Regions from separate parts of the Homo sapiens genome. Here region 1 is linked to region 2. The links come from fine-mapping of genetic effects on gene expression. Tissue or cell type: whole blood. Region 2 holds a variant in brackets; the other region holds the start of a gene. All regions are shown on one strand. Distances are between the middles of the regions.

Evidence for each region. PIP is the estimated chance that this variant, and not a neighbour inherited with it, causes the effect.
Region 1: GORASP1 starts here. The variant in region 2 is fine-mapped to the expression of GORASP1 in whole blood (TOPMed, PIP above 0.99).

The regions. Positions count from the first base shown.
Region 1 is chr3:39,104,435-39,113,976 of GRCh38, forward strand. It overlaps GORASP1 (golgi reassembly stacking protein 1), which reads right to left and starts at 3,193. Exons shown (of 9, transcript NM_031899.4): 1 at 3,045-3,193. The coding sequence starts at 3,107. TTC21A (tetratricopeptide repeat domain 21A) reads left to right here and starts at 3,246. Exons shown (of 29, transcript NM_001366900.1): 1 at 3,246-3,430; 2 at 4,651-4,780; 3 at 5,595-5,705; 4 at 6,417-6,583; 5 at 8,024-8,146. The coding sequence starts at 3,404. RefSeq lists a silencer at 2,823-3,142.
Region 2 is chr3:39,060,214-39,070,638 of GRCh38, forward strand. WDR48 (WD repeat domain 48) reads left to right here. Exons shown (of 19, transcript NM_020839.4): 2 at 2,837-2,977; 3 at 5,598-5,676; 4 at 6,335-6,417; 5 at 6,533-6,662; 6 at 8,558-8,646; 7 at 9,430-9,531. Among named protein-coding and RNA genes, the nearest start is that of WDR48, 13 kb to the left of the region's middle. The variant G/A (reference allele first, on the strand shown) is at 4,211.

The DNA of each region.
Region 1 (9,542 bases), 44 kb after region 2:
CTTTGTCCCAAGGCCCTAGACCCGAAGATGGGCCCACACCCTCAGGTCTTTGGCTGCGGGCATTTGATAACCTGTTGGCGTAGACACCAGCCAGACCCAGCCCAGAGGGCACAGGACCTAGGCTCTTGCTGCCTCCTCATGGGAAAGGCCCTGTGGCTCCTGCTACATACCAGCCCCTCCAGGTTTGGATTCCCCAACCTGAAGGAGAGCTCATGAAGACTAGGCTGAGAACAAACCGCTGAGATCAAGGCCAGTTTGCCCCTGGAATTAGGATTCCCTTCTGGCAGCATCACCAACTGAGCCCCTCCTTATCACCTCCAGAAGCTGCCATGGCTTCCAAAGGGAGTGAGTGCGGCCCAGAAATCAGATCTGGGCCTAGTTGGCCTGGCCCAGTAGGCAAGCTGCTCCCAGGCCCCGCTGCAGGGGAGCTCTGGGCCCTGCCCTCTAACCCTTCAGGTGAGGGGATCTTTCGAAAACCACAGGACAGGACAGTTATTCAGGAATAGCTTGGGGACAATGCCCCTCCCTAATCAGGGCCACCTCCAAATCACTCCACGTCAGGTGCCTGCCTACTTCCCTCCCCACTCCCCAGTATTGCATGTCAGCTGCTCTCCATCATGAATGAGGTCCAGAGGGTCAGGCCCCAGGCCTGGCCTCCTTGACCCACCCAATACCTCCACCACCCTCTCCTGTGGCTTTGTCCTCTGCTTGGCTACACTCCACTTCTCTCACCTGGGGCCTCATCACTACTCACTATGGCTCCGCAGCTGAAATAATCTATGCTGCTGCCCACTGTACGGCTCCCCCTGCAGAAACCACTGCCTGCCATCCAGCTCCCTCAGGGGCTCCCATCACAGCCTGCCCCAAGGCCCTATAGTGCTGCTTTTCCTCATGCTCCCACCCTATTTTTCCCAATCAGGGAACCTAATGGAACTCACAGTGATCACAACTTACACTTACTAAGGGCTGGTTGGCTGAGTGCCAGGGCATGGCACCACCTCACCTGCTTTATGTGTCATTTAACCTTTTTAATAACCTCAAATGACAAATGAGACCAAGTACTCAATAATTCAGTAATTTGACCCCAGGAAATCCAACCCAGAGCCCTCCCCCTAACCACTGCCCTCTCCTAACAGCTGTTTCCTGGTGAATCTGCCACTACTCTAAGCTCGCTGAGGGCAGCGACTTCTCCAAAGTATTGGGCACGCAGCGAGGTGCCAATATTTCTAGAATGCAGCACAGCTGTTCTTCAGTGTTGTTAAAGGTAAGTAGGTCATGTCACTCCTCCATTTAAAACCTCCTGATGGTTTTACATCTCAGAATAAAATCTTAAATCTTCAGGACAACAGGCAAGGTCCTACACGGTCTGCTCTGGTCTCCTCCTCACACTGGCCACACCATCCAAGCACACCAGCCTCACCTGGCATTTCCTCAAACACACAAGCACAACCTACCTCGGGGCCTCTGCACAAGCTGGTCCTTCTGCCTGGAATACTACTATTCCCCTAAATATCTGTATTGTCCACTCTTTACTTCCTTCAGAAGCATCTGTTCGAATGTGACTTGAGAAGAGGCCCTTCCTGACCACTCTATCAAAAATAGCACCCACTCACCATTCTGTATCCCCTTAACCTGCTTTATTTTTATCACTGGTAATTACCACCTACCATGTATTTTTTCATTTCCCTTCTTTCCCTACCATCATCCAAATGTCAGCTCCAGAACAGGGACCATGTTTGTTCTGTTCACTGCTTTATCTCTAGAGCCTTAGAATTCTGCCTGCCAGAGTAGGAGCTCAAAACTTTGTTTTTGTGACTGACAACCTCTGATCCCTGGTCCCTCTCCAATTTGTCCCTCTCCATCAGGCAGGCCCCTCCCGTCTTCGAAGCTCCCATCATCGCCCCACCCCTCCTCTTGCCAATATCCTGAGTTCCTTTGCCTTTAATCAAACCTGTTGGAAGACGCTCCTGGCTGGATGCATTCCACTGTCCACGCTTGCTGTTTGGTGTCTCACCATAAGAAAGCCCATTCCCAAGCACAAATCCTGTCAACTCTGGGTTCTCCAAGCCAGCCTGGTTTTCACGTTAAGAAACTTTTAGCCCTCTCATGTGGTTAGCTGGCAACAGACCCTACCTTCAAAACACACAAACCGACAAGCTTGCCTGTCTCCACTCATCTCTGCATCCAGCTGCCTTTCACTAGGGAAAGGGGGGGTGCAGGGACGCCTCTTCCCCGCAGCGCTCCGGGGTCAGAGACCCCCAGCCCCTCTCACCTACATTATAGCCCTTCCCTCACCGCAGGCACAAATCTCCATCCGGCTGCGGGACCCTCTCCTCACCCTCACAGCACACTCCGTTCTAGGAACCCCACTCCGTCTCCACTCTCCGGAAGCCTGCTCGCCCAGACCTCCATGTAGCGGCATCTAAAGGCTGGGACCCTCCCCAGCTGCAAACGCTCTCCTCGAGGATTCTGCAGCACTCTCCCGGCCCTCCCGCTCCCCACTATCCCGTGGCTGGTTTGCACCGGTCCTCTACCCTCGGAAGCCCTTACGACCCTACGACTGGCAGGACGCGCGCCGACGGGCTCCCCCGCAGCTGCGTCCACTCGGTTAACCCCGGCCCCCGGGACTGTCCTCGGCGTGGCTGACTCTCTTCCCAGGCCCAGCACGGAGAGCGGCCCGCGGCAGGCGAGCGTAAATGTGTGCTAAGTGCACGAGTGCGTCCCGACTGGTAGTGGTGCATTCTTCACCCGGGAGGAGCGCCATTCCCGGCGGCCGGACCAGGAAAACGCTCCGCTTCCGGCACTGCTGGCACTTGGGGCGGGCGCTGGGCCCGACCGCGGCCGCGGACTAGCCAGGGTCCGGGAGTCCCGCGAGGCCGCCTCTCCCAGGAGGCTCCCACCGGGCAGGGGGCACCTCCCGCCACCCAGGCGGAAACACTCGGGCCGGGACCCCGCCGCAGTCGCCAGCCAGCCGGCGACCGGACGCCCGGGCGCGGGGTTGCGGGCGCCTCGCCAAGGTCACCGGCGCCGCGGCGGCAACTCACCCCGTGGAGGTGGAAGCCCTCGGCGCCGCCTGCGGGCTGCTCAGCGCTGACGCCCAGGCCCATGGCAGCGGCTCCGCTCGGCACCCAGGTCCAGTCCCGCTGCGCCTACCCGGACCGACCCGACGCCAGTAGCACCGACTCGCTCTCTCGGCGCTCGATTCCTGCGCCTTGTGACGTGAGGCGTTTTGTTCCTCCCACTCCAGACACTGGACGCTCCTAGCAACCGGCTAGCAGCTCGGTTTCCAAGGACTGTAACGCCTTCAACCGCCCGCCGCGATAGAGTGCCCACGACCCTGCCTCGGGAATCCCGCTCTGCACCGCCCCACCAGACCCGGACTCGGAGCCGCGAGCGGCCCGAGATGAGCAGCAATGACTCCTCCCTTATGGTGCGTGGCCCGGGCGCTGTCCGAGGGCTCCCTCGTGACTCCCCGCCCCTGACCCAGAGACCGTCTGCCCTGCTACTCTCCTGCCACCCTTCGCTGTCCTCAGTTATATCAGGCGGTCCTGCCTTTTCTTGCCCCACTCCCCCTGGCAAGGGCGTCTTCTCCGGTGGCTTCTGCGCACCCTGAGCCCCAAATTAGCATCCCCGTTTCTTGAGCTACCCCAAACCAGCTCATCCAATCACTATCATTATCCCTTCTTGTCATCATCCCTTCTTCCACCCAGCTCACTCTCGCCTGCGCCTCCCACCCCAGTTGATGGCTTCACCATTTAATCTCCTAGCCTTAACTCATACCTCTTCCCTATACTCATCTTCTAATCCTGTCTACAAGAAATGCCAGCTCCTTGATGTCTCCTGGGTTTTCTTTTTATCTTTTTATCTTCTAGCCCAGAACCAGCACCATCTCTCCCCCCTGAGAGCCTGCAACAGCCTCCCTCCCATCTGGTTTCTCTGCTGTGGCTCTTTTCAGCATCAGTAGTCCCTGCTGCCACCACGGCACACACCCCCCACATGCAAAAGCAGCCAGAGTGGTTGTTGCAAAAATGTACATCTGAAAACATCCCTCGCCTTAAAACCATTCTGCTTTCTGTTACCCTTAGGATGGTGTCTGGGCTCTTTCATATGGCCCATGAGGATGTTTACAGTCCAACCACATCTGCTCCCAACCTAGCACCCACAAACCTTAGAGGAAGTGAAACTTAACTTTAAAATCTCAGCCCCTTTGTCAAGCTGTAGTTTCCATGGGCTTAAGCTTCCTTAGCTGTGAAAGATACTGAGAGGACCATGCACAGGATAGTGGATATGAAGCCCACAATAACTTGTAACTACAATTCGTATAATTTTTCTTATTATTTGTCCTCATTTTTCCCCCCTTATTCCCTTCCTAAGACAAAGCCTTGGTTGAATTCCCCATCATAGTTGAACCAGAATCTGTTGGTAATCCCCCAAACAAACACCTCCAAACTCTTTCCTGGGAAAACTGCATGGAGCTGCTCCCAGGGCTGTTAGAGGACAGGATGAGGCCTGAATGTTTCCTCTTTCTCTTCCCTTTGCAGAACTGAGGAGGAGCAGGGGATAGGGAAGGGAGCAGGTCTCATCCCATCTGGGACAGAACAGAGACAGAGAAGGGACTGGGCTATTGCAGTTATGTCTTCCTTCATACAGGCTGGGATCATTTACTATAGCCAGGAAAAGTACTTCCACCATGTGCAGCAGGCTGCAGCTGTGGGCCTGGAAAAATTCAGCAATGACCCTGTGTTGAAGTTCTTTAAAGCCTATGGAGTCCTCAAAGAAGGTAAGGACTTGGCAGTGTTGGTCTTGTGACCCCAGGCACTAGCTGGGCCCTAACACTCTGGCTCCACCTGGATGCCTTCTTGTATCCTAGTTATGGTCCCATAAAAACAGTTTCACACTCAGCGGCTGGATTCCCACGGGAATCCACAGAGGCCTACGTAATCCATATCTAGTTGACTTTTGAGACCTCAGAGCGCTGACTATCCCTGCTCTGCACCTCGGGTTCCCTCTCTGTAAAATGAGTGGTTGGAGAGATAGCTGCATGATTCTTGAAGTAATTCCAGGCCTGGAAGCTGAGAACTGGTAATGCAGGCAAAGGAGGGGGAAGAGGTAGGTGTGAGGACAGGTGGGTATGGTACAGGTACAGGGAGAGGAGTGAGACCCATGCAGGTGCAGATGGGCTGACATTCAGAAGGTGGTCCTAGGCTGAGGACTGGCAGAATAGCCCATGGCCAAATGTCTGAGGACATGGAGGGATAAATGTAATCAGTGGCTCTTGAGCAGTAGCTGAGAATGCCCTGCCTGAGGTCCTTCTTCAGAACTGACGCAGCTAATAATTGCAGCCTCACACATATCCCCACAAGTACTCACAGGGTGAACCTTTCAAGTCCAAGATTTCCAGCCCCTAACAGCCTGGACCATGTTACCAGCAACTCTTTCAAAGAGCCCCAATCTTCAGGGAACTTGGGTCACTGGGGACCTTTCAGACCAGTTAGTCCAGCAGGTAGTAGTGCTGAGCTGTTGGGTCAGCTACAGAGTCTCATGTCCTCTAGTCCTGGAGCTTGAGAGTATAACTATGTGGACTGTCTTTGCAGAGCACATCCAGGATGCCATCAGTGACCTGGAAAGCATCAGGCATCACCCAGACGTGTCCCTGTGCTCCACCATGGCCCTCATTTATGCTCACAAAAGATGTGAAATCATTGGTGAGTGCCACCATGCTCAACCAGGCCTGACCCACCAGGGGAAGGAAAGCCCTGCCCCAGAGATAACACAGCCCCTCAAGGGCTGCCAAAGGAGGTATGTGCCCTGGTGGCTGTGCAGATGCTGTTAACCAGTGAGAAGTGGCTGCTGCTCCTCTCCCCCTGGAGGCCTGGGAGAAGACTCCATGCCTGGGCCCAACTGAGTGGAAGCAGGCAGAGCCCATGACAGTGGGAGGGGCCCATGCTCCAGATCCCAAGAGTTGGGGAAACACCCTTCTTCTTTGCCAAGATCTTGTCAGAAAAACCAAGCCAATATATATAATTCTACCCCTAATCTCCACATTTCTAGAGTCAGGGAGAGGGTCCAAGAGAGACTACAGACTACTATTTCCCTACTCACAATAAGTTGTGGGCCTGAGGCTAAGGATTTTGGTTTGGCCTGCCTGCTCAGCACACTGCTGGGCACAGAGAAGAGAAGGTAATCTCAGACAGCACACGTGAGTCCACACCAGGGCAGCCCCTGCAGCATCTCAAGGGCAGGTACTGCTGGTTTCCAGGCCTTGGGCTGCATGCGGTGTGCTGCATATGTTGAAGGAGATCCACAGTGTCTGGGGGAGACCCCGAGGTAGTTCCCTGGGCCCTCGGTGGCCCATGCAGAACCAGGCAGACTTCCACATCCTAACTCTCCCTCTTCCTTCGCTCTTGGATTTACAGACCGAGAAGCAATTCAGGAGCTTGAGTACAGCCTGAAGGAAATACGCAAGACAGTCAGTGGGACTGCACTGTACTATGCTGGCCTTTTCCTCTGGCTCATAGGCCGCCATGACAAGGCCAAAGAGTACATTGACCGCATGCTGAAGATTTCTAGAGGCTTCAGAGAGGTACTTACCACACCATGGGGACAACAGGCGAAGAAAGCAGCATCCAAACACATAATAGCAGGGTGGCCCTCATTCCCACAAAGGGCCCTGAAACTGGGGGAGAGCCACACCCAGGCACTGGCAAAACACCGGGTCTCACAGTTGCCCCACGCGTGTTGTCTCTGGGCTTAGCAGAGGTTACACATTGGCATTTGTACACAGAGTCTGATCTTTAGATAGATTTTCTATGGCTTGCACCATATTCTTAAGAAATTTTTTTTTGAGACCTCACTGCAGCCTCAACCTCCTAGGCACAAGCAATCCTTCCACCTCAGCCCCCCAAGTAGCTGGGACCATAGGTGTGTGCCAGCATGCCCAGCTAGTTTTTACATTTTTTGTAGAGACTGGGTCTTGCCATGTTGCCCAGGCTGGTCCAGACTTACTGGTTCTTTTGAAGACCCAGATGAGCTGGCCACACTGGGCCATTCCCTCCCTGTAATGCTCTGCTGGAACTGAATGGTGGCTCATGCAGTGCAGCCCATATACTGTATATCTGCACTAATATGGAATTTGAAGCCTCAGTCTAGGCCATGCCTTCTCAGCAGGGCTGATACCAATTTTCAAGGGTGTAGACATGGTCCCTGGGGGAGAGGGTGAAAAAAATCTTACTCTTTATGTATAAAACACAGATATATATACAGTACACAATACACAGATACGGTATATCTGAGGCACTAACATTTCTTGGAAGGGGAGGGATTGATTAGAAAACAGTATCTAAAGAGACTCCTTAGGATAGATAATAGAAAAAGAGAAATAGAACTATAATAGAGAAATACTGATCTAGGCCATCAAGAGGGGTGCTTTAGGGCAGGGCTCTTCCAAGTCTGCTTCCCAGGCCTGGCCCTCCCCATCTGCCTGGAGAGGCTGGGTGAAGGCTAACATGGAACCAGCGAGGTCCACGAGCTCAGAACGGCTCCTGCTCACCCACTCAGAGGGCATTCCTTGGCTTCCTATGCAGGGCCAGGCCTCGTGCTGGCCTAAGGAGTGGAGACATCAAGAGTGGCCTTGCGTAGGCCCCCATGTTGGCTCCTGACCCCAGTGTAAACAGGCAATGACAGGATAGGTGAGTGTGCCTCAGTAAGGGTCATGGAGAGCTGTAGGGGTACAGGGAGGGAGGCCTCCTAAGCAGGGGCCTCTGAGGCTGAGTTGTAAGTAGTGGTAATGGACATTAGGTGAAGGGGTTTGGTTGGGAGTGGGAGGGGCGCTGTCCAGGGCATTTCCAGACAAAGCAACAATGGGAGTCCTGGCCATGAGAGAGAGCTGGCTGCCCTGGGATCTGCACGGGACTGTGCCTGGCAGGGCCTCAGGGTTTTGGGTGGCAAAGTGTGGATCATGTGCAGGCTGAGTTGATTCTGTGCAGGACCAAGGACTTCATCTTTCATCTTGTTCTCATCCCAGGCCTATGTGCTCAGAGGCTGGGTGGACCTGACCTCAGACAAGCCCCACACTGCGAAGAAAGCCATTGAGTACCTGGAACAAGGAATTCAGGACACCAAAGATGTGCTGGGGCTGATGGGAAAGGTGGGCAGTGGAAAAGGGAGAGGTGGAAGTATTCCTGGCCAGGCCACTGGAACCAGAGACCCACCAGGTACCCCCAGGCCAAACCCTCGTAGTCTCCAGATGCCTCATCTCGTAGATAAAGAGCAGAGGCCCAGAGAGGTTCAGCAACCAATCCAGGGTTACACAGCAGTCCAAGGTCCACTCTACTTCTCAGATTTCTTCCTGCTTGATCTGAGTTTCTGTCTCATTTGCATGGGGGTCTTCTCAGGGTCACTTTCTTAAGGTCTATCCTTCCTTGACCCTCTCAGGCTTTCTCTCTGCCTCTGTGTTAGTTTCACTCAGTGCCCTTCTCCCTTTCTTCTTTTATTTTGACCTTCCCATTTCACTTCTTTCTACCTGTTAAATTCATTTAGTGTGCCGTAAGAGAAGGGAGGTATATATTTTATATGTTCTGTGTTTTCTGATCTTAAGTTTCTTTTTTCTCTTGTGAACCTCATGGAATTAATCTTTGAGAGAAAAAATGTCCTCGTATTTTCTTCTGTTTGCATATATTTTTATTATAAAAGAATACATACTTATTTAAGAAAACAGAAGCCTAAAAAAAGTCAACAGATGAATTAAAATGGCAGGCTTAGTCTTACCGCTCCAAGACAAATGTTAGTATTTTAGGGCAATGTCTTCTAGTCTTCTTTCTATACTTGGGTCCAGGGTGTGTATTAGGTTGGTTTTCTGGCTGGCAGAAAGCAATGGAGATTATTGTGAGCCAGCTTATCACAGAGCACCCTTGGGGCCAGCACCTGTGGAAAGAGAAGGCGGGCTGTGAATAGTCACAGCAAAGGCCACAGCCTACTCTTTGGGGAACTCTGGAGCCGGGATGCCCCTTCAGTGAGCTCCCCATCAGTGCCTTGACACTGGAGGTGGGCTGCCCCAGGGACAGGTGTGACCTGGGACAAAGCAGCTCCCTTCAACCATGGGTGATCCCTGGAGGGAGACTCCATGGAGAGCCATCAGCCACCAACTCTCCTGCTCCTGATGGTAGGGGGTGGGTCACACACAGCAGTCACTGTGGGGTGGGAGACAGTGTTGGTCTATAACGTAGTTTTCACCCTAGGGCATATTGTCATTTAGTTTGTTTTTCTTCATGTAATATTTTCTTTGTGTAATATTCAAAATGTCAGTTTGAACATGGATATAAAGCCAGTCTTCTACTGTATGAGCATAATGTAATTTACCAACCCAGTCCCCTATTGTTTGGATATTGGGATTGTTTCCAGTTATGCACTTAAAGTGCTTCAATGAACACATTTATGCGTAAGTCTTCATTATACGGAATAATCCTCTTGTTTTTAATGACGAGTCTCTTAATGGGGGTTACTGTAGGTCTAAGGGAAGCCGTCCTTTCAGAGTCCAATTTCAA
Region 2 (10,425 bases):
TTACTCCCCGTTTTTCATTTTTCCCTCCTTCAATCTCCTGGCAATTACTAATCTACTTTCTGTGTGGATTTGTCTATCCTAGACATTATATATAAATAGAGTCATAAAATATGTGGCCTTTTGTAAAATATGTGGCTTCTTTCACTTAGCACATTTTCAAGGTTCATCCACGTTATAGCATGTGTCAGTACAGTGTGTGTGTGTGCATATATATATATATATATGCACACACACACATCACATTTTATTTGTTTTGTCCATTGATGGATATTTGGGTTGTTTCCACTTTTGTAACATTATTGTGAATGCCACAATGCTGTGAACATTCTTGTACATAGAAAAGGTTTTGACTTGTATTTGGCCAGATCACCATTGCTCTTTTCCTTCGTAAAGATTACCATCTTTCTTGGCATGTTGGAAGAGTTTTCTCTGGCAAGGGACTATGTAAATATTCACCTGTCTTTTAAAAATTATTTTTATGCTGGCCAGGTGCAGTGGCTCACGCCTGTAATCCCAGCACTTTGGGAGGCTGAGGCGGGTGGACCACTTGAAACCCAGCCTGGCCAACATGGTGAAACCACCATCTCTACTAAAAATGCAAAAATCAGCTGGGCACAGTGGCATATGCCTGTAATCCCAGCTACTCAGGAGGCTGAGGCACGAGAATTGCTTGAACCTGGGAGGTAGAGGATGTAGTAAGCCAAGATCGGGCCACTGCTTTCCAGCCTGGGTGACAGAGCAAGATTCTCTCAAAAAATAAAAACAAAAATTATTTTTATGGTTATTAAATTTCAGTCTTTAATTCATAGAAAAATTCGTTTTTGGTTTAAGATGTGGAGAAAGGGTATAATTGTTCCTAATAGAATCACTATAGGTACTTGAGATAATTTTTTTTAATTATTATACTTCAAGTTCTAGGGTACATGTGCACAACGTGCAGGTTTGTTACATAAGTATACATGTGCCATGTTGGTTTGTTGCACCCATCAACTTGTTATTTACATTAGGTATTTCTCCTAATGCTATCCCTCCCCCAGCCCCCTACCCCCCAACATGCCCCAGTGTGTGATGTTCCCTGCCCTGTGTCCATGTGTTCTCATTGTTCAGCTCCCACTTACGAGTGAGAACATGTGGTGTTTGGTTTTCTGTCCTTGTGATAGTTTGCTGAGAATGATGGTTTCTGGCTTCATCCATGTCCCTGCAAAGGACATGAACTCATCCTTTTTTATGGCTGCATAGTATTCCATGGTGTATATGTGCCACATTTTCTTAATTCAGTCTATCATTGATGGACATTTGGGTTGGTTCCAAGTCTTTGCTATTGTGAATAGTGCTGCAATAAACATACGTGGGCATGTTTCTTTATAGTAGAATGATTTATAATCCTTTGGGTATATACTCAGTAATGGGATGGCCGGGTCAAATGGTATTTCTAGTTGTAGATTCTTGAGGAATCGCCACACTGTCTTCCACAGTGGTTGAACTACTTTACACTCCCACCAACAGTGTAAAAGCATTCCTATTTCTCCACATCCTCTCCAGCATCTGTTGTTTCCTGACTTTTTAATGACTGCCACTCTAACTGGCATGAGATGGTATCTCATTGTGGTTTTGATTTGCATTTCTCTGATGGCCAGTGATGATGAGCATTTTTTCTTGTGTCTGCTGCAGAAATGTCTTCTTTTGAGAAGTGTCTGTTCATATCCTTTGCCCACTTTTTGATGGGGTTGTTTTTGTTGTTGTTGTTGTTGTACATTTGTTTAAGTTCTTTGTAGATTCTGTATATTAGCCCTTTGTCAGATGGGTAGATTGCAAAAATTTTCTCCCATTCTGTAGGTTGCCTGTTCACTCTGATGATAGTTTCTTTTGCTGTGCATAAGCTCTTTAGTTTAATTAGATCTCATTTGTCAATTTTGGCTTTTGTTGCCATTGCTTTTGGTGTTTTAGTCATGAAGTCTTTGCCCATGCCTGTGTCCTGAATTGTATTGCCTAGGTTTTCTTCTAGGGTTTTTATGGTTTTAAGTCTTAACATTTAAGTCTTTAGTCCATCTTGAGTTAATTTTTAACTGTTTATTTCATTACATTAGAAAGTTTTACTTCTGGCTGCCAGCCAGCTTATTGACTTTTTCTTAGGTGTAATTGTTTTCAGTTGATCCCCTGTTTTCACAAGGAACAGACAGAGGTCACCAACAGTAACAAAGTAGGGGAAAATGCCCTGAAGAAAAAGTTTAGTATGTGATAGGAGCTCAAAACCTCATTTTGCTTGGCAAGTCAGGGAAGGCCTTCTAAAGGAAGTATTGTTTAAATGGAAACCTGAAGGCTGCAACAAGAGTTAGCCAGACAGGTCGGAGGAAGAGCTTCCAAACAGAGAGGACCAGCATGTGTGATGGTCTGGAGGCACAATGCACCAGAACCTGGAGCAGAGATGAGTGGCCAGAAAGACAAACAGGGTACTTGAGACCATGTTAAGGAATTTACATCCAATCATGAGTCTAGTAGTCAGCAACTGGAGGTTTTTGAGCAGAGCTGAGATAGATTTTTAAATAATTACTCTAGCTGCTTTGTGAAAAATGGACTAAAGACTGGGAAAGGAGTCCAGTCAGGAAGCAGTTATAGTAGTTTAGCAACTTACTCATGTTGGACTAGGCTATCATTGATACCATCCTTCTCTTCAGCCCTTTAGTCTTTAAGGAGTAAAATTTAAATTTGTATTGGGTTGAAAAAGTACATATTGGAAAACATGGGATTTTCTGTTTCAGATTGGCCACTAGTAGACTATATTTTATTACTGCATGGCTTGTACTTTATAAAAAGCATATGTTGACACATTTGTCAGGTTTCCTATGTTATTCGAGATGAAGTGGAGAAGTACAACCGAAATGGAGTCAATGCTCTGCAGCTGGATCCAGCACTAAATAGACTTTTCACAGCCGGTCGAGACTCTATCATAAGAATATGGAGTGTCAATCAGCACAAGGTAATGCAGGGATTAAAATCTGTACCCAGCAAATTCTGGACAAATGGCTTTTACTGTCTAATATGACACTTTTCACAGTTTCAGATTTAATCTCTCTGAATGCTGAGTTATTTGGTACACTCTATAAAGACATCGCAACCAGAATTCTGTAAGCCTCTGAGAAAAACCATCCCTAGGAAAGTTTCAGAAGTGTTTCAGCTAAGACAAGGACTCCCTAAACTAGGTTTGCCTTACAGAGTTCTTTGCCACAAAGGAACAAAGTGATTTGGCTAGTAGGGGGATTACTTTCAACAATTAATTTTTTTGCTTTAAATATGTTCCCCAACAACCTCTTGGTAACCTTACTAAAAAAAGATTGAATATTCTTTTACATTTCTAATTAATCTTGAAAAAATATTTTATTTTCCTCACTTAAAAGTAATTAGGATCCTCACAAACCCCACACGGCCTAACTAGGTAATACAAGGTTAGGCTGAGCATGGTGGCCCACACCTGCAATCCCAACAATTTCGGAGGCCAAAGTGAAAGGATTCCTTGAGTCCAGGAGTTCGAGACCAGCCTGGGCAATGTGACAATACCCTGTCTCTGCAAAAAAAAAAACTTAAAAATTAGCTGGGCATGGTGGCACACACCTGTAGTCCCAGCTACTCGGGGAGCTGAGGTGGGAGGATCACTTGATTGAGTATGGGAGGTTGAGGCTGAGTGAGCCGTGATCACACCACTGCATTCCAGCTTGGGCAACAGAGGGAGACCTTGTCTCAAATAAATAAATAAAGATAATATAAAATTGGTGTTAAAACTATGAAGACAACATGCTCCCCTTCAAAGATTTCCCTTTCTTAAGCAGGGAACAGGGTTTAAATATGTGTAAAGATAAATCCCCAGGCAAATGGTAACGAGCCCTTTTAGTATTTTGTTGGAACACCTATATTGTGAATGACAGAGAAAAGAAGAATCAGGGAAGAAAAAAAGAGCATTTATTGATCTTCTAATTATGTGCCATACGCTCTTTGCATTTTCATATCCAATGTGATTTTAATTTTCAGTGTCCCTCAAGGTACCTATTAGGATCCATTTTCTTTTTTTTCTTTTTTTTTTTTTGAGATGGAGTCTCGCTCTGTCACCCAGGCTGGAGTGCAGTGGCGCGATCTTGGCTCACTGCAACCTCTTGACTCCTGGCTTCAATCAATTTTCCTGCCTCAGCCTCCTCAGCAGCTGGGACTACAGGCACAC[G/A]CCACCACATCCAGCTAATTTTTATAATTTTAGTAGAGACGGGGTTTCACCATGTGGGTCAGGCTGGTCTCAAACTTCTAGACTCAGATAATCCAACTGCCTTGGCCTCCCAAAGTGCTGGTATTACAGGCGTGAGCCACCGCGCCTGGCCAGATCCATTTTCATAGATGAGAAAATGGGCTCAGAGAAACCCATGGTTATGTGGCTAGGAAGTGACAGAGAATTAGTACCCAGCCCAACTTGAAAACCCTAGTGCTAGACCTTGTATTTTTAAAAGTTTGTGTCTTTTTAGCAAGTTTTACAAGTCTGATATTCAGTTCAGAAAAAGAACCACTACTTTATGCGCCTATAACTTCAGTCTGGCAGGCTTTGAATTCTTTAGCCAATGGACCATGCAGTGGTGGCCAAATGTCAAAAGCATGAAAAGTAAGAAAACTATGTTTGGCTTTGAAATGCTTTTTGGTACTTATAATTGAATTGGAATGTCTCCTTTCTGAGCATTCACAGTATTTCAAACAAATTAAGAAAAACACCCAAAAGAACTAACCTGAAGAATCTGGAAATCTGCCTGTCTTGCCCCAAACATCTTTTTTCTGGTCTTCCTTTTATGACAAGATTGAATAGCATTATTTGTCAAACAGACTTGTACAGAGCTGTTCTGTTTGCCCATAAAGTGTCTCAAACTTGCCTGTTTTAGGTGTAGGATGTAACTAAATACTGTTCTTTAAAAGGCCTCTCCTGGTTATTAAGCCAGGTAAGAGAAGTAGAATCTCGAATCACCTAATTGAAATGGTGACACAGGTTGTCCTTTCTCAGCCGTTGGGTTTCCTTTCATCTCTGAAGGCCTGTAGGTACCATGAGGAAAACATTTAATTCAGAGGGTGAACCCAACAGTAGGAAGCTGAAAGCAGAAGTGTTTATCTCCCTCTGCATTCAGACCAGGCTCCTTAGTGCACTCATCAGACTCATTGCTGCCCCTGCTGTCTGCTGTTGAGCCTTCACCACCACTCATTCAAATCCCCACAGCCTACAGATTCCTACAAGTCATGTCCTTTCTAGTGAACCCTTTTTAAAGGGTTTTATGTCACACACAGTGCCTAGTCCAGAGCTTGTTGCCTTCACTTTAACAAGGCAAAAAAAAAAAAAATGAAGTATTTGTCCTGGAAACCTAAGCTTTCAGTAAGAGTAAAACTGTCCTGAAACAAAACTGTTTACATCTGTTATCTGGAAGCATCACCTATTTGGTGAGATTCTACTCAGAATTCAGGTGTTAGTTTTAATGCCTAGAGCAGTATGTCACATTAATTGAAGAATTTAACCATATCTATCATTTGTAATATATTTCATTCTCTCATATAAACTCTTAGGATTTTTCTTTTAATTTCAGCAAGATCCATATATAGCATCTATGGAACACCATACTGATTGGGTAAACGACATTGTACTCTGTTGTAATGGGAAAACATGTAAGTATTTCTTTGGATTATTATTGGGCTTCTGATATATTTTTTGTTTTTTATATAAGCTTTTTTATTGAAACATACATACAGAAAAGTACACACACTTCGAGATTGCAGTTCAACACAATTTTAGAAAGTGAATACCCAAATCAAGAAACAATATTACTAGAAGCCCTCTTGTGCCACCCTTTGCCACCCTTTCAGTTATTCCCTCTTGCCCCAAGGTAACTGCTCTTCTGTCTTCTGAACACCAAAGGGTAGTTTTGCCTTCATTTGAACTGTATATAGACTCGTACTATATGTATTCTTCTTTTAGCCTTATTAATACCTCTTTTTGTTCTAATTTTGGTGAGATCCATTCCTTGGTTTTGCAGTCCGAGTTACAGGAATTTTTCTCAATCACATTAGTTGAGCCTTCAACTGGAACATTAAAAATGTTTGCACTGCTTGTTTTAAAAATATATTTTTTTCTTTGAACATGTGTCTTGAGATTTTAAAAAATTGAGGCAATATACAATAGGTTCTAGAAAGAGCTTTTAGGTATGTTTGTGTGTGTAAGAGAGAGAATATGTTAGTTTGAAATAATGTTACATTGTTGTAAGATAAGTTTTCAAAGTTTTAAGTCATACTACTAAGGAGTTTGTTAATTCTTTGCTTCTTCTAGTAATATCTGCTTCTTCTGACACGACAGTAAAAGTATGGAATGCACACAAGGGATTTTGCATGTCAACATTAAGGACACATAAGGTAAAACAATACAGTTCTCAGTGTCTTTAGTGTAATATTGGGATCTCAGTACTTTGTGTGGCTCATTTTATTACTGATCTACAGAATAGATCATAGTATGTCTGTTCTATTACAGGATTACGTAAAGGCCTTAGCATATGCCAAGGATAAAGAACTAGTAGCATCAGCTGGGTTGGACAGACAAATATTCCTTTGGGATGTGAATACTCTAACAGCATTGACTGCCTCAAATAACACTGTCACAAGTAAGGTGTTTAAAAGAAACTTCTTTGAAAGTGATCCAAGTTAACATAAATAAAGAATGGTTTATAAAACATTTTTGATAGGTTTGCATCGAGAGAGTGTTTCATATTTTGAGAGTGCTTCTACCTACAGCGTTCTGGCCCCCAAGAGTATGATTGAACAACAAAGAGCTAGTTCCTCACTGCAGTCTAAAAATGGTAACTTCTCCAGGTATAACCTGGTTATTTTTTGTACGTGTGCATGTCTTAGCTCCCTAGCTAAAATGTAAGTCCCTGCAGGGTAGAGGAGACTGTCTTACTACTTCGTATCTCCCACAGCATTCCCTGGTCCAAATCCATACACTCAGCAGGTATTATTGAAGGAGGTGGCGATTTTCTGACAAAGTAGGCGGTTTTCTGACTTTTTAAAGTGTTAAGAGCTTTTGAGTTAATAGCCAAGATGAAAAATACCCAGGAGAAAGAAAGAAAAGGTTTCCAGTGCCAGTTTATCAAATTTTCTGCCTTTTAGAGCAGCCCTGAGGAATCAAGCCAATTCCAGAAGAGCCAGAACGGTAGAGTGCTTCTAGAGGCAATCCAGAGATGTTCACAGCATGGATGATTCATCAGCTAAGAGATCTCAGACTACCAAGTCAGGCTCATACAAGTCTAGATTTGAAATTGAGCTTCATGCTTGGCCCAACCTAGTAGAGTCCTCTAGGCCAGGTTTCAGAAGGGACTGTTAGGAGCACATTTTTGGCTAGGCCTGACCTGGAAAGTCTACATTGAAGACATGGGCCTGCATTCTCTGGATCCCTACATTATAGGTCCATTTTATAACGACTCTGTGGAGTGTTCACATTGACATAGACAATACAGTTTTACTAATATAGCCTAGTATGTGCCAAGAAGGGTAAGTTGGGAGACTTGTGTTTATAATCTCTTGATTGTTGTTTTGCCTTGTTTTCCAGGAAATATGTGAAGGTCTCAACATTCTTTTTCCCTTGTTCTTGATTTTTCACCTGTACATTATCTCTGATTCATTAGCTGGTCCCTGTTGGGGCTGTCATGGTACATCATTAGGTTTTAAGTCTGGATGTAAGGCCTGCCTCAAAGAGACACTAATGGGAGGGAACAAAGCAAAAAAAAAAAAGCAGGTTGTCACAAGGTCAGGGCCCAGGCTTAGTGGATACAGATTCTGCTACATCTTGCTTAGAGTTGTTTAGAGAGGATATCACACTTTTTTTTAATACATAATAATAAAAATAATACTAATAATGGCTAACCTGTATTGAGTACTTGCTACAAGTAGACATTTTTCTAAACAGTACATGTAGTAACTCATTTACTCAACTTTTTAATATGTTTGTAAAATTGGGTTCATACTATATAGACAGTTTCATATACATCTTTTTTACTTCAGTGATACTGAGAGTATGAACATGATTTTTGCTATAGTCTGAATTCCTTCCTGAAAGGTTGTACCTATTTATCTTCACATAAGTAATATATGAGAGTTCCATTGTACTGTTTTCTTTTTACAATCAAGTATTACCTTGTTTTTTGTCTTGGTGTATGAAACAGTGTTTTTGGTTTGATTTGTGTTTGAAAAATACTGAAATTGAACATTTTTTCATATTTATGGCACATGAATAGCTTTAAACATATCATTTAAGCGGATAGCTTTTCAATGGCACTGCAGTTTATCAGATATTGAGCATTTGTATATATTCAAATCCAGAAAATATGTAAATTTTGATAATAATACTGTTTAGATTTATCTCCATTATAGGTAGATTTCTTTTCCGTAGAGGACTTATAAAGATAAGATTTTCTAAATTGAATAAACTTGCAGTTTTTGCTGACTAGTTACTAAACAGCTGATGATCTTGTTAACATTTAGCTCCGTTTATCCTCAATAGCTTCTTCTTTAAGTGGAAACAAAGATTCCATTTATAGCCTGGCCATGAATCAACTGGGAACAATCATTGTATCAGGGTCCACTGAAAAGGTAAGGAGGAGCTTATTTCTTTATTTAAAAAAAAAAATTATTTTTCACATACCTTGTCTCCTATTTTTTAAGCAGGTATTTTACGATTAGCTTCTTTATATTTATTTATTTAGAGACTGGGTCTCACTCTGTCACCCAGGTTGGGGTGCAGTGGCATCATGATCCTGGCTCACTGCAGCCTTGACTGCTGAGGCTGTAGCGATCCTTCCACCTCAATCTCCTGAGTAGCTGGGACCCCAGGCACACACCATCACGTGCATCAGGCCACTCCTTGTCCCATCTGGCTAATTTTTGTATATTTTTAATAGAGACAGGGTTTCGCCATGTTGTCCCTCCAACTCCTTAGTGCAAGCAATTCACCTGCCTTGGCCTCCCAGAGTGCTGAGATTACAGGCATGAGAGCCACTGTGCCCCAATCGGGGGAGCTTAAAGGGTGGTTTGAACATTAGAAAATAAAGAAACCAAAATAATTTAATCTGTGTAATTATTAAATATATGGACAGTGGTTTTGCCTAGTGGGTGCTAAACAAAAGGTTTTATTTGAATAAGTAAGAGTATAACTATAACTGTTGTGTGTATAGTGACAAGATAAAGAGGCTGTGCATTTTTGATGTTTGAAAGGCCTAATTCCCTGAGGTTGGGAGGCTTAGACAGTGTCCATTGGCAGAAGTGGTATTGCCTTCTCAGAATATAATGGTTATCATTTGACTTATGAGAGTTGTCTGTTATTTAAATTTGATACTGATATATTTAGTTTGTGTAATACTCTATTAAAATTCACAGGTGTTACGGGTATGGGATCCAAGAACATGTGCAAAACTAATGAAGCTTAAAGGGCACACGGATAATGTGAAGGCATTGCTATTAAACAGAGATGGCACGCAAGTATGCAGTTTCATTTGGGTGTTTACCTAATAACCTTGTTAGAAATTTCCGCACTTTGTATACTATTGCATAGGTTGATTTGAACCGAAAGCCACACTTATTATAAATTGTCTAATTAAAAAATTTTAAAATACTAAATTGCACATATAAGCTACATTTAAAAACTATTCTATTTGCATCACTTTTAACAAAACAAAGAATTTCCTTAGAATAATTCTGATGCAGATGAGTATATGCATTTATGGTGCATAGGGGCTAAAATAACTAAAAACATTACCTGTGTAAAGCAAAAGGAAGCTTTGATATCAAATGCTTTTTGCCAGTGTATTAAGTGGAAAATTTGCTCACAGTGGGTCTGACTTAGGGGCACATTTTGTCAGTTGACTATGTAGATATAGTTGATAAATTTAGTTTTCTAACATAATGCTCAGAGTGAACATTTCAAAGAAAAACATTTTGGTAATGTTATACATTAGCTCTGTTGGCCACGTAATTTGTGAATTATAAATCACAATTCTGTTCTGTAGCAATGGAAAATACTTTTTCATCAATGTAGATAATAAAAAACAAAAACTGAGCATCATTTTATGGGTATGACATATGTCTACCATGTACCCTTGACTCAGCCATTTTTTTTCCAGAATGCAGTGATAAGTCAGAGATAACTGGAATTGATTGTGATAGGGTTAGAAAAGGGCAGGTAGAAAGATGATGAGGTGAGAAACACCATCAGTTTCTTTTCCTGTGGAAGTTAAGACTTTAGACATGAAATTGCTAAAATTTCACGTCTAAGAAATTGCTTTAGACATCAATCAGAGAAGCCGTCGCCTCCAGAAATGAACAGAAGGTTTGGAAACTAGTCTAAGGAAGGAAATCATTTTTCAGAACCAGGAG